Regions from separate parts of the Homo sapiens genome. Here region 2 is linked to region 1. The links come from fine-mapping of genetic effects on gene expression. A gene starts in region 1. The other region holds a variant in brackets. All regions are shown on one strand. Distances are from middle to middle.

Region 1 (5,236 bases):
TCTGGTCAGATCATTAACTCCCTAGTCAAACTTTCAGACTACCGTCTGAACATCAAGTGCTAGCCTGAGCTTGTTTCCAGTCCCCCAACCCCAGGCTGTGGCTGGGGAAGGAAGAGGACAGCGAAAGCTTTCTCTGCTCCCTCGGGAGACAGGAAAGCCCTTTATTTATTCCTGCCCTTCCTCTTCTCCAACTGAAGAGTGTGATCTTGGTACAGAGCAGTTCCACACATGCCACACTGGTCTGATCTTTTAGAGTAAAAAATGGGATCTTCTCAGAGAAAATTTTTTTAAAAACTTCATGTGCTTAGGTCTCAGAGCAGAGAATTTTGTCTTATCATGACGCCACTCACTGGCAAACAAGCTGGCGTGCACAGGGACTTGTGAGGCTCTCAGCAGAGTCAGGGTAGCAGTTATTTCCCTTTGACTGCCTCAACTTCCTATGTTTGTGTTGACATGCCAGATCCTTATTTCTGCGGAATGAGAAATCTCTTGAGAATAAAGTTTTCCTAAACAGAACAAAAGTATCAAATCACTTTTGATGAGCAAACATTATTTTAAACTTTTTTTTAACTTACAAAAGATGAGGGGTAACATTTACTAGTTTTACAGAAATTTTCTTTAAACAGAACATTAGTGAACCAAATAACCAATTCTCCTCAAACATGATAGACAGGATGGAGGTTATCACTTTGATCATTTTAACCTCCAACATAGTAATTTGTAAACATCAGTCGCTGCACAAGTATTTTAATAACAGGCCAGCCCACGGGAGTAAACAGCACCTTAGCCTCGAGACCTGTTCTCTCAACTGTGTGTACAGATTTTCTAAGTCGTTATGAATTCAGATATTCCCTACATCTCAATAAAAACACCTAGGAGAACAAGAAATCAGGACATGCATCTCCTGTAAGCAGAAGAGAAACCGAGCACCTGCTCTCTTGCGGGGGGGCAGCTTCGTGTCACTTTCCAACTCAGCCTCCACAGGAGCATGGGCATATTGGTTCAAATGAAGTGTAAAGGACACATCTCTGTCCACAGTGTAAATCCTATTTCCTTAAGGTGGTCAACCGATTGAGACCAGTTCCACACTTCCTTAAAGAAGGAAAAACTCAGCAGCCAGCGCCAAGGCCCAGCGATCAGAGAGGACCCGTGCTCGCCGCGACCCCGCGCTCGCCCTGTGGCCCCGCGACCCCGGCGCCAGGTGTTGGGGGGACCGGCCCTTCCCTTCCGGGTGTGAGGGGCTGGCCCTTCTCTTCCAGGTTGGGGGGCTGGCAAACTCGAACCTCGCCGGCGCCCTAGCCAAGGCCTCCTCCCCGCGCCTGCCGCGGGTTCCACGCACATTCCAAGCGCGCGCATTCGACCCAAACTTCAGAGACGCTTCTGTGGAACGGAAGGATGGTCGCTGACACCTCGCCGTTCAAATATCAGGAAGTTAAAAATAACACGACCATCGTCATCATTCCAAACTTCGGAATAGCTTTTCTAAAAATGGAAAAGACGGTGGCTAAACTTCAATCAAAATCGCTGTGGTCAAGAAAGTCCTGGAAGCTGCTCTATCTTAACTTTGGGCGGTTTGCGGTTAACAGACGCGCGACCTAGAAACCCCAGAGGCATCGCCGGTTTTCCCGTCCTCCTCCTCCCACCACCGCCCAGCTCTTGAGAGGGGAGGGTGCTGCCGGACAGGTGGGTCCCCGGGTACTCACTGCTGCCCGCCCGGCCGCGGCGCCCCGTCCCGAGGCTGCCCAGGAAGAGGAAGGCGCGCTGCCCCGCCCCGCGGACAAGGAGGCCCCAGCGAGGGCGTACCTGCGGCAGGTGACGAAGGAGGCGGCGCAAAACACCCGCCGTGTACGTTTCGCGGGACAAAAACCACGCGCCCGCCGGGCCGCGCTCAGGCCTTCGCCCTCAGGGACTTCGGAACCGCCCCGTCCTCAAGATCGAAAAGCCCAGAGCCCCGCGGCGGCTCCAAGCACGGTGTTGGGGGTGGGGGTCTCAGGGAGCGCCCAGGCCCAAGGCCGCCCTGGTCCGGCGTGGACCCCGCGGGGCTCAAGGCAGGTTCCCCGCGTGACCCGCCCAGCCCCTCTATGCGAACTCGAACGACAGGCACCACAGCCCGCCACGTGCGCGAGACTCGCGCTGTGCCCCAACCCAGGTGGGCGGCCCGCGGAGCCGCGAGGCCTGAGCCCGCCCTGCAGGTGACCCGCGGCCCTTCCTCCTCCAGGTACCCCTCTCCTGCGGCCCCGTCCCCTATAGGTAACCTTTACCTCCCGCGGCTCCTTCCCCTCCAAGCGACCCGCAGCCCCGCCCCCTCCAGGTGACTCCCCCCCGCCAACCCCCGCCACCACACACACACACCCCCTCGCCTTCCGCGGCCCTACTCCCTCCAGGTGACCCCACCCCCGCAGCTCCTCCTCCTCCGGACAACCTGCAGCCCCGCCCCTGCAGGTGAACGGCGGCCCAGTCCCTGCAGGTGACCCGCGGACCCTCCCCGCCCGTCCTACTACCGTCATAGGACCGCCTCCGCAGGCGCACTGGAGCCGATTGCGCAGGCGTGGCTCTCACACGCGCTGCCCTGTTGGCGTTGGTGCGGGACTGCGCAGGCGCGCGGGGCAAGAGGGTGGCAGTGCGCCTGCGCCGCGTCGGCGTGCGGAACGCCGCGGTGTCTCGGCGCCTCTGCGCGCGGGAAGATGGCGGAACAGGCTACCAAGTCCGTGCTGTTTGTGTGTCTGGGTAAGAGGGCGCCGACTTACTCATGTTCTGACGTCCTCTGGAGAGTTGGATCGGGCTTGTGCGCTGTAGGTTGTGCCGCCGGCCTAGGAACCATGAGGGGGAGGAGGCCAGGGACTGGGAGGCCTAGGGTGTTCTAGGAGTGTGCCGCAGCGCCCCTGTTCCCCATCCGCCCCGTGCACCCGCCCAGCCTGCCCGCTAAACCTGGGTCCCCTCGCGCCTGCCATATATCCGGGGCTCTTGGCATCTGCAGCCACAGCCCCTACAAGCCAAGGTACTTTCTTTGCGACTACTAGAATCCCTCTCGTTCCCCTCCAATGGGCCCAGGTAGGCCTGGAGGTTGTCGGACTGATGTGGTCTCTTAGGGGCCTCCTGAGTCCTATGACAACATTGTTTTGTTTGCTAGTTTCCTTAGCCCATGCTTAGATAGGGATCTGAGTTAAAGGGAGATGAAGTTTTACGGTTTCGGGTTTCTTGATTGTAAAAGCCAAGCAAAGGAGACCTGGAGGTCCCTATATAACTTTGGCCCATGAAAAATGAAAGTGTATTTTATTAATGGCTTTTCAGGAACTTTCCAGCTTAAATTATTTTCACTCCTAGAATTTCAACACTTAGCTTGCCTTACTTCAAACATAATTTATTTTCCGTTTGGTCTTCAGGGATCTTCCTTTGGTGTAGCACTACAAGGTTATATTCCTCGGTGCCTCCACCCTGAGAGGAAGGCCTAAATTGTCAGTAGTCCGGTTACTTAAAACCTTCTGTGAGTTTGCATTTCCTGCAGTTTCTGTTTATTTTTACAGACTCCTCACTTTATCTCCTGTACCTTTTCCTGCTCACACCCTCGGGACACTGCCTTCCAGAACCTTTCGTTGTTCGGTAGCACTTCACATGCTTACTGAGCCTTCATCGCTGGGTGCCCATTATGCATTTTGCCTGGAAAGCCTTTTTATTTTATAAAGTCAAACCTAAATATTTCCTCCTTTGCTTTCCCAGATCATGAGTTGCTTCCTTATCGACATCTTTTATTACACAAATTTTACTATAATTTGTGTAATATAGTAAAAGATGTAATACAGAAAAGGTGTGATTCCTTATCGACATCTTTTATTACACAAATTTTACTATAATTATTTGATAGTCTGTTGAAATCCCAGCTGAGTTTAATTTTGTCGATGGCAATAACTGTGGCTTATTTTTCATTTTGTTTTCAGCTTTAGGACAATATATGATAAACGCTGACTAGGTTTTGTAGAAGTTAACTTCTGTGAAAGACGAATTAGAAGGCTTACCTTGTTTCACATTGGTAGTGGGCATCATTTGATTTTTAAGACTCATTGAAGGCTGAATGATGAAATCAATAAGTTTATTAAACAGTAGTTTGGTTAAGGATGGTTACTAAATAATATTCCATTCCCTTGTATAGTTTTGGTTGGTATTGTCGATTATGCTGGCATAATGCATCATGGTTGCTGTTAATGGGGAAGTGTATCCTTGCATATACAGTAGTCCCACTTTAGCTGTAGGGGATACATTCCAAGACTCCCCAGTGGATCCCGAAACTGTGGGTAGTACCAAACCCAATTGCTGTCAATTGGAACATGTGTCTGCTCGTTTCTTACACCCACAAATGTAATACCGTTGCCACCTTAACTAAGCATTTAAAACTGTGGTCGCAACTTTTGCAGTTTGAGGCAAGACAGCAGACGATCAGGAATTTCTTTTTCCTTGTTTACATTTTCATGGATAGAAGATTTGTTCGTACTGTAGATCTTAGTAACCTCGGTATAAGTTTTTTTTTTCTTTCCATAAGAAGTCAAAAACTTTCACCTTTTTACTTAAGGGTAGTGCTTATGGCTTCTCTTTGCCGTATCTGAATTGCTAGCTTCACTACTCTTATGATTTCGGGCCATTATTAGTAAACTAAGGGTGACTCGAACTCAGGCACTGTGATAGCATCACAATGGATCTGATAAGCTAGAGGGCAATAGGTGGATAGACAGCATGGATATGCTGGACAAAGACGTGTTTCACTTCTGGGGCAGGACGGAATGGGATGGCATGAGAATTTATCCTGCTACTCAGAACAGTGCACAATTTAAAACTTAGGAATTATTTGTGGAATTCTTCATTTAATATTTTCCAACTGAAGCTGACCATGGGGTAACCATGGAAAGCAAAACCTTGGAAAAGAGGGGACTATTGTATTTCAATACAATTCAGTGATTTTTTGTTGTTGTTGAGCATCTACTATATGGCATGCATTCCTCTAAGTGGTGTGGTGAACACAACAGACAAAAATCCCAGCCTCTCTGGAGCTCACGTTCTCTCAGTCACCAGCAAGTATTAATTGATGTGCTCAATCGGTTGATGTGAAGATTAAGAAAAATAGAGCAGAAAAGGGGAATGGGAGTGGAGTGCAGTTTTGAGTGGGATGGTCAGGGAAGGCCCCACCTGATAGATGACTTTTGAGTAAAGACTTGAAGGAGGTGAGGAAGCAAGCCTAGGATATTTT
Region 2 (5,236 bases), 120 kb after region 1:
ACTCCATCCTGCAAATCAGCAAGAGGGGTCTCCCTGCAGGCGCCCCACTGCTCACCACTTACCTGAGAGCAGGAGCCAGGTTCTGCCCTCTGCCCGCTCCCGTCTGCCCGCTCCCCTCTCCCCTCTCCCCTCTGCCCGCTCCCCTCTCCCCTCTCCCCTCTGCCCTCTGCCCTCTCCCCTCTGCCCTCTGCCCTCTGCCCTCTCCCCTCTGCCCTCTCCCCTCTGCCCTCTGCCCTCTGCTCTCTGCCCTCTCCCCTCTGCCCTCTGCGCTCTCCCTTCTGTCCTCTCCCCTCTGCCTTCTCCCTCTCCCCTCTCCCCTGTCGCCTCTGCCCTGCTCCCTTCTCTGTCCTGGGCTTCTGCCCCCCTCACCGCTCTCTGCATCCACTCCAGCTTTTCCCCCCTTCACTTTCTCCAAACAGTGATTTTTTGAAACTAATATCAACAAGATCAGGACAACTGCAATCACTTTACCCGACTTGTCAGTTTCCTATTTAGAAAATTCAGACTATGGAGTGGAATTGGCTCCTCATGGGACCCATGGTAAGTTTTTAATTTTTGAATTCACAATCAGATGATTTGGTTAAATTTTACATCCTTGTGTAGCTCCCCTACTCAACATTAACTGTGTATTCCTAGGAGTTTTCAGTAAAATTCAAAATATGTTTAAAAAGAAAAAATTCTAGACCAACTATCACCTACAACTGAATAAAACAAAGTATTTTATTATAGCCAAAGGGTTTTTCTGACTTGTCCAGCACACCAAGGTAATCAGTCAAATTTCTTAATATTTTTCTGTGAATGTCCCTGTCTGAGATGGAGGAAATAGCTGATCATAAGTCTAAATAGCAAGACAACTTCTGGGAGGAAAGCAAAATTAACTTTATGTATATGAAACTGATTTTCAGGAGAAAATGCAGACTCAAAGAAATGTTATTTTCATATTATAAAAACTATACAAAATAGAAAAAAAGATGAAATCACCTTGAACAATACAAACATCATAATTCAACCGTCGCGAATATTTCAGTGTAATTTTTAAATTTCTTCTCTACACTTACATATCTGTATAGTCATCTCTATAACATACAGGCGACTACCTATCTGCTTTTCATGTTTATAACTCGATTATAAGCATAACTCCCTATTGTCACATAGGTGTTAAGCCTTCATTGAGAGGAAGAAGAATCCAAGTTTTTATAATTTTATGGTCGGCTTCCTCATGTATTCTTTGCTTTTCTGTGCTTGACTCCTCCTCACACACTGGCTGCAGCTGGAGGAGACAGAAGCTACTACGAGGATTTCAGGTTCTTTGAGTTTCAGGCGGACTCAGCTTCCAGGGGCGAATACTCCACCTCTTGCAGCTCCTTCTTCCCTGCTGCGGGCGAGAGGGGGTCCTGGGATGGTCTGTGGCTGGCCGTGGAGGCCGGGGTCTGGGCTGGCCGTGGAGGCCGGGATCTGGTCTCTGAAATCTGGTGGCTCCTGGCAGGTGGGCACCATTGGGGGCTGAGCACACTGTGCTCCTGCCACTGCCTCTGGCTGGGGACCCTCTGGAGCAAAGCCTCGACACCCCAGACGGCCTCCTCAGCCACTGCACGTGGTCTCCACTGGAACCCCCTGACTTACTTAGGAATGCTGACTCAGAGGCGGCTGCAGGTCTGAGCCGGGGCTGTGGCTTGGCCGACAGGCACCCACAAGGCACCCGCAGCCGCTCCGAGGCCCTGCTCTGAATGCTCTGCCTTTAGATTCCGTCCTTAGCATCAGGAAAGAAAAGACCCGGCTTGTGAGCTCCTTGTCCCACCTTCTTTCACTCCAGACGTCCATCTCCATCTTTCTCCATCAGGGACTTTCTGGGCAGGACACTTCCTTGATCACATCCCCAGTTTTCCACCCAGGACTTTGTGAAAACTCCTCCAGGCCTGGCTCTTGGTATGTCAAGAGAAGTTTAAGGGATTTAGACAGTACATACATATATGTACACGTGCGTATGTGTGTGTGTGTGTTTAAGGGATTTAGACAGTACATACGTATATGTACACGTGCGTATGTGTGTGTAAGGGATTTAGACAGTACATACGTATATGTACACGTGCGTATGTGTGTGTAAGGGATTTAGACAGTACATACGTATATGTACACGTGCGTATGTGTGTGTGCGTGTTTAGGGGATTTAGACAGTACATACGTATATGTACACGTGCGTATGTGTGTGTGCGTGTTTAAGGGATTTACACAGTACATACGTGTATGTACACGTGCATATGTGTGTGCGCGTGTTTAAGGGATTTAGACAGTACATACGTATATGTACACGTGCATATGTGTGTGCGCGTTTAAGGGATTTAGACAGTACATACGTATATGTACACATGCGTATGTGTGTGTGCGTGTTTAGGGGATTTACACAGTACATACATATATGTACACGTGCGTATGTGTGTGTGCATGTTTAAGGGATTTAGACAGTACATACGTATATGTACACGTGCGTATGTGTGTGCGCGTTTAGGGGATTTAGACAGTACATACGTATATGTACACGTGCGTATGTGTGTGCGCGCGTTTAAGGGATTTAGACAGTACATACGTATATGTACACATGCGTATGTGTGTGTGCGTGTTTAGGGGATTTACACAGTACATACGTATATGTACACGTGTGTATGTGTGTGTGCGTGTTTAAGGGATTTAGACAGTACATACGTATATGTACACATGTGCGTATGTGTGTGCGCGTTTAGGGGATTTAGACAGTACATACGTATATGTACACGTGCGTATGTGTGTGTGCGTGTTTAAGGGATTTAGACAGTACATACGCATATGTACACATGTGTGTACGTGTGTGTGCGTGTTTAAGGGATTTAGACAGTACATACGTATATGTACACATGTGCGTGTGTGTGTGCGTGTTTAAGGGATTTAGACAGTACATACGTATATGTACACATGTGCGTATGTGTGTGTGCGTGTTTAAGGGATTTAGACAGTACATACGTATATGTACACATGCATATGTGTGTGTAAGGGATTTAGACAGTACATACGTATATGTACACGTGT[GTGTA/G]TGTGTGTGTGCGTGTTTAAGGGATTTAGACTACATACGTATATGTACACATGTGCATATGTGTGTGTGCGTGTTTAAGGGATTTAGACAATACATACGTATATGTGCACGTGCATATGTGTGTGCGTGTTTAAGGGATTTAGTACATACATATATGTACATGTACGTGTGTGTGTGTAAGGGCTTTAGACAGTACATATGTATATGTACACGTGTGTGTGTTTAAGGGATTTAGACAGTACATACGTATATGTACACATGTGCGTATGTGTGTGTGCGTGTTTAAGGATTTAGACAGTACATACGTATATGTACACATGTGCGTATGTGTGTGTGCGTGTTTAAGGGATTTAGACAGTACATACGTATATGTACACATGCGTATGTGTGTGTAAGGGATTTAAACAGTACATACGTATATGTACACATGTGTGTATGTGTGTGCGTGTTTAAGGGATTTAGACAGTACATATGTATATGCACACATGCGTATGTGTGTGTGCGTGTTTAAGGGATTTAGACAGTATATACGTATATGTACACATGTGCGTATGTGTGTGTGCGTGTTTAAGGGATTTAGACAGTACATACGTATATGTACACATGTGTGTATGTGTGTGTGCATGTTTAAGGGATTTAGACAGTACATACGTATATGTACACGTGTGTGTGCATGTTTAAGGGATTTAGACAGTACATACCTATATGTACACGTGCGTGTGTGTGTGCATGTTTAAGGGATTTAGACAGTACATATGTATATGTACATGTGCTTGTGTGTGTGTGTTTAAGGGATTTAGACAGTACGTATGTATATGTACACGTGTGTGTATGTGTGTGTGGGTGTTCAAGGGATTTAGATAGTACATATGTATGTGTATATGTACATGCGTGTGTATGTGTGTGTGTGAGTTCATACAAGTACTTATTTATCCACTTACTTTTCTCCTTACAGCCATGATTTTACACGTGTTTTGGTGGGAACTCAGTTATCTCGTTCCGTCAGTCAGGGCGGCAGTGATGCCTCTTCCTTTAATTTGCATTTCCACCCTGACAATCACATCTCCCTGAGCAAATGGCTATTTCTGTATGACTAGGGGAAAGATCACATATGAAGGAAAATAAAAGAGAAGAGCACACAATTTAAATAGACCTTTAAGTGATCTCTTTTGCATGGATATTCACTTTGTTTATCATCTTTCCTGGACATGTGTTGGGAATGGGATTAACTGGAGGGTGCAGTACAGAGCAGCATTCCAGAGCCGGCTCTGTGAGGGTTTCAGGCGAGAGCCGGTGCCAGGGCTGCCAGGACTTCCGTGCTTGTCGTCGTGGGGCAGGGATGGATGCCTGATTTCAGACGGAAGAACGCCACTCTCATCAGCAGTGGAACTGAGTCGAGTCCTCAGTGGCCCTGTGGAGTCTTGCAGGTGAATGCTCCAGTAAGCGACGGCCACCCCCGAGGTGTTCCTGAGATGTAGAGATAATTCCAGCTGTGCTGTGTGCTGTCTAACATTTTGGGTTCTCAGTGATGTGGGTGGAGAGATGGTTCCAGCTGCACGGTGTGCCGTCTAACATCCTGGGCTTGTTCCTGGTGTTCTCAGTGATGTGGGTGGAGAGATGGTTCCAGCTGCACTGTGTGCCGTCTAACATTCTGGGCTTGTTCCTGGCGTTCTCGGTGATGTGGATGGAGAGATGGTTCCAGCTGCACTGTGTACCGTCTAACATTCTGGGCTTGTTCCTGGTGTTCTCAGTGATATGGGTGGAGAGATGGTTCCAGCTGCACTGTGTGCCGTCTAACATTCTGGGCTTGTTCCTGGTGTTCTCGGTGATGTGGGTGGAGAGATGGTTCCAGCTGCGCTGTGTGCCGTCTAACATTCTGGGCTTGTTCCTGGTGTTCTCGGTGATGTGGGTGGAGAGATGGTTCCAGCTGCACTGTGTGCCGTCTAACATCCTGGGTTCTCGGTGATGTGGGTGGAGAGATGGTTCCAGCTGCGCTGTATGCTGTCTAACATTCTGGGCTTGTTCCTGGTGTTCTCGATGATGTGCGGCAGAGGGAAGGCCCTCACACTTTGGGGTACTTTTTCTTTAAATTAGAGATGATGATACACAGCTGGGAGGTGGGTGGGAAAGTGGGCGTGGTAGGAGATGAGTCAGGTGAGAGCATTTTGAGAC

The links. PIP is the estimated chance that this variant, and not a neighbour inherited with it, causes the effect. A credible set is the group of variants that fine-mapping cannot tell apart.
Region 2: its variant is the best candidate, but not a certain one, in a credible set for the expression of ACP1 in tibial artery (GTEx, PIP 0.59).

What each region holds. Positions count from the first base shown.
Region 1 is chr2:262,281-267,516 of GRCh38, forward strand. ACP1 (acid phosphatase 1) reads left to right here and starts at 2,667. Exons shown (of 6, transcript NM_004300.4): 1 at 2,667-2,727. The coding sequence starts at 2,685. SH3YL1 (SH3 and SYLF domain containing 1) reads right to left here and starts at 1,752. Exons shown (of 10, transcript NM_015677.4): 1 at 1,704-1,752. The coding sequence starts at 1,704. RefSeq lists silencers at 1,648-2,227, 2,298-2,377 and an enhancer at 2,728-2,777.
Region 2 is chr2:386,672-391,907 of GRCh38, forward strand. LOC105373351 (a long non-coding RNA gene) reads left to right here. Exons shown (of 3, transcript XR_922703.3): 3 at 420-606. Among named protein-coding and RNA genes, the nearest start is that of LINC01865, 73 kb to the left of the region's middle. The variant GTGTA/G (reference allele first, on the strand shown) is at 3,061.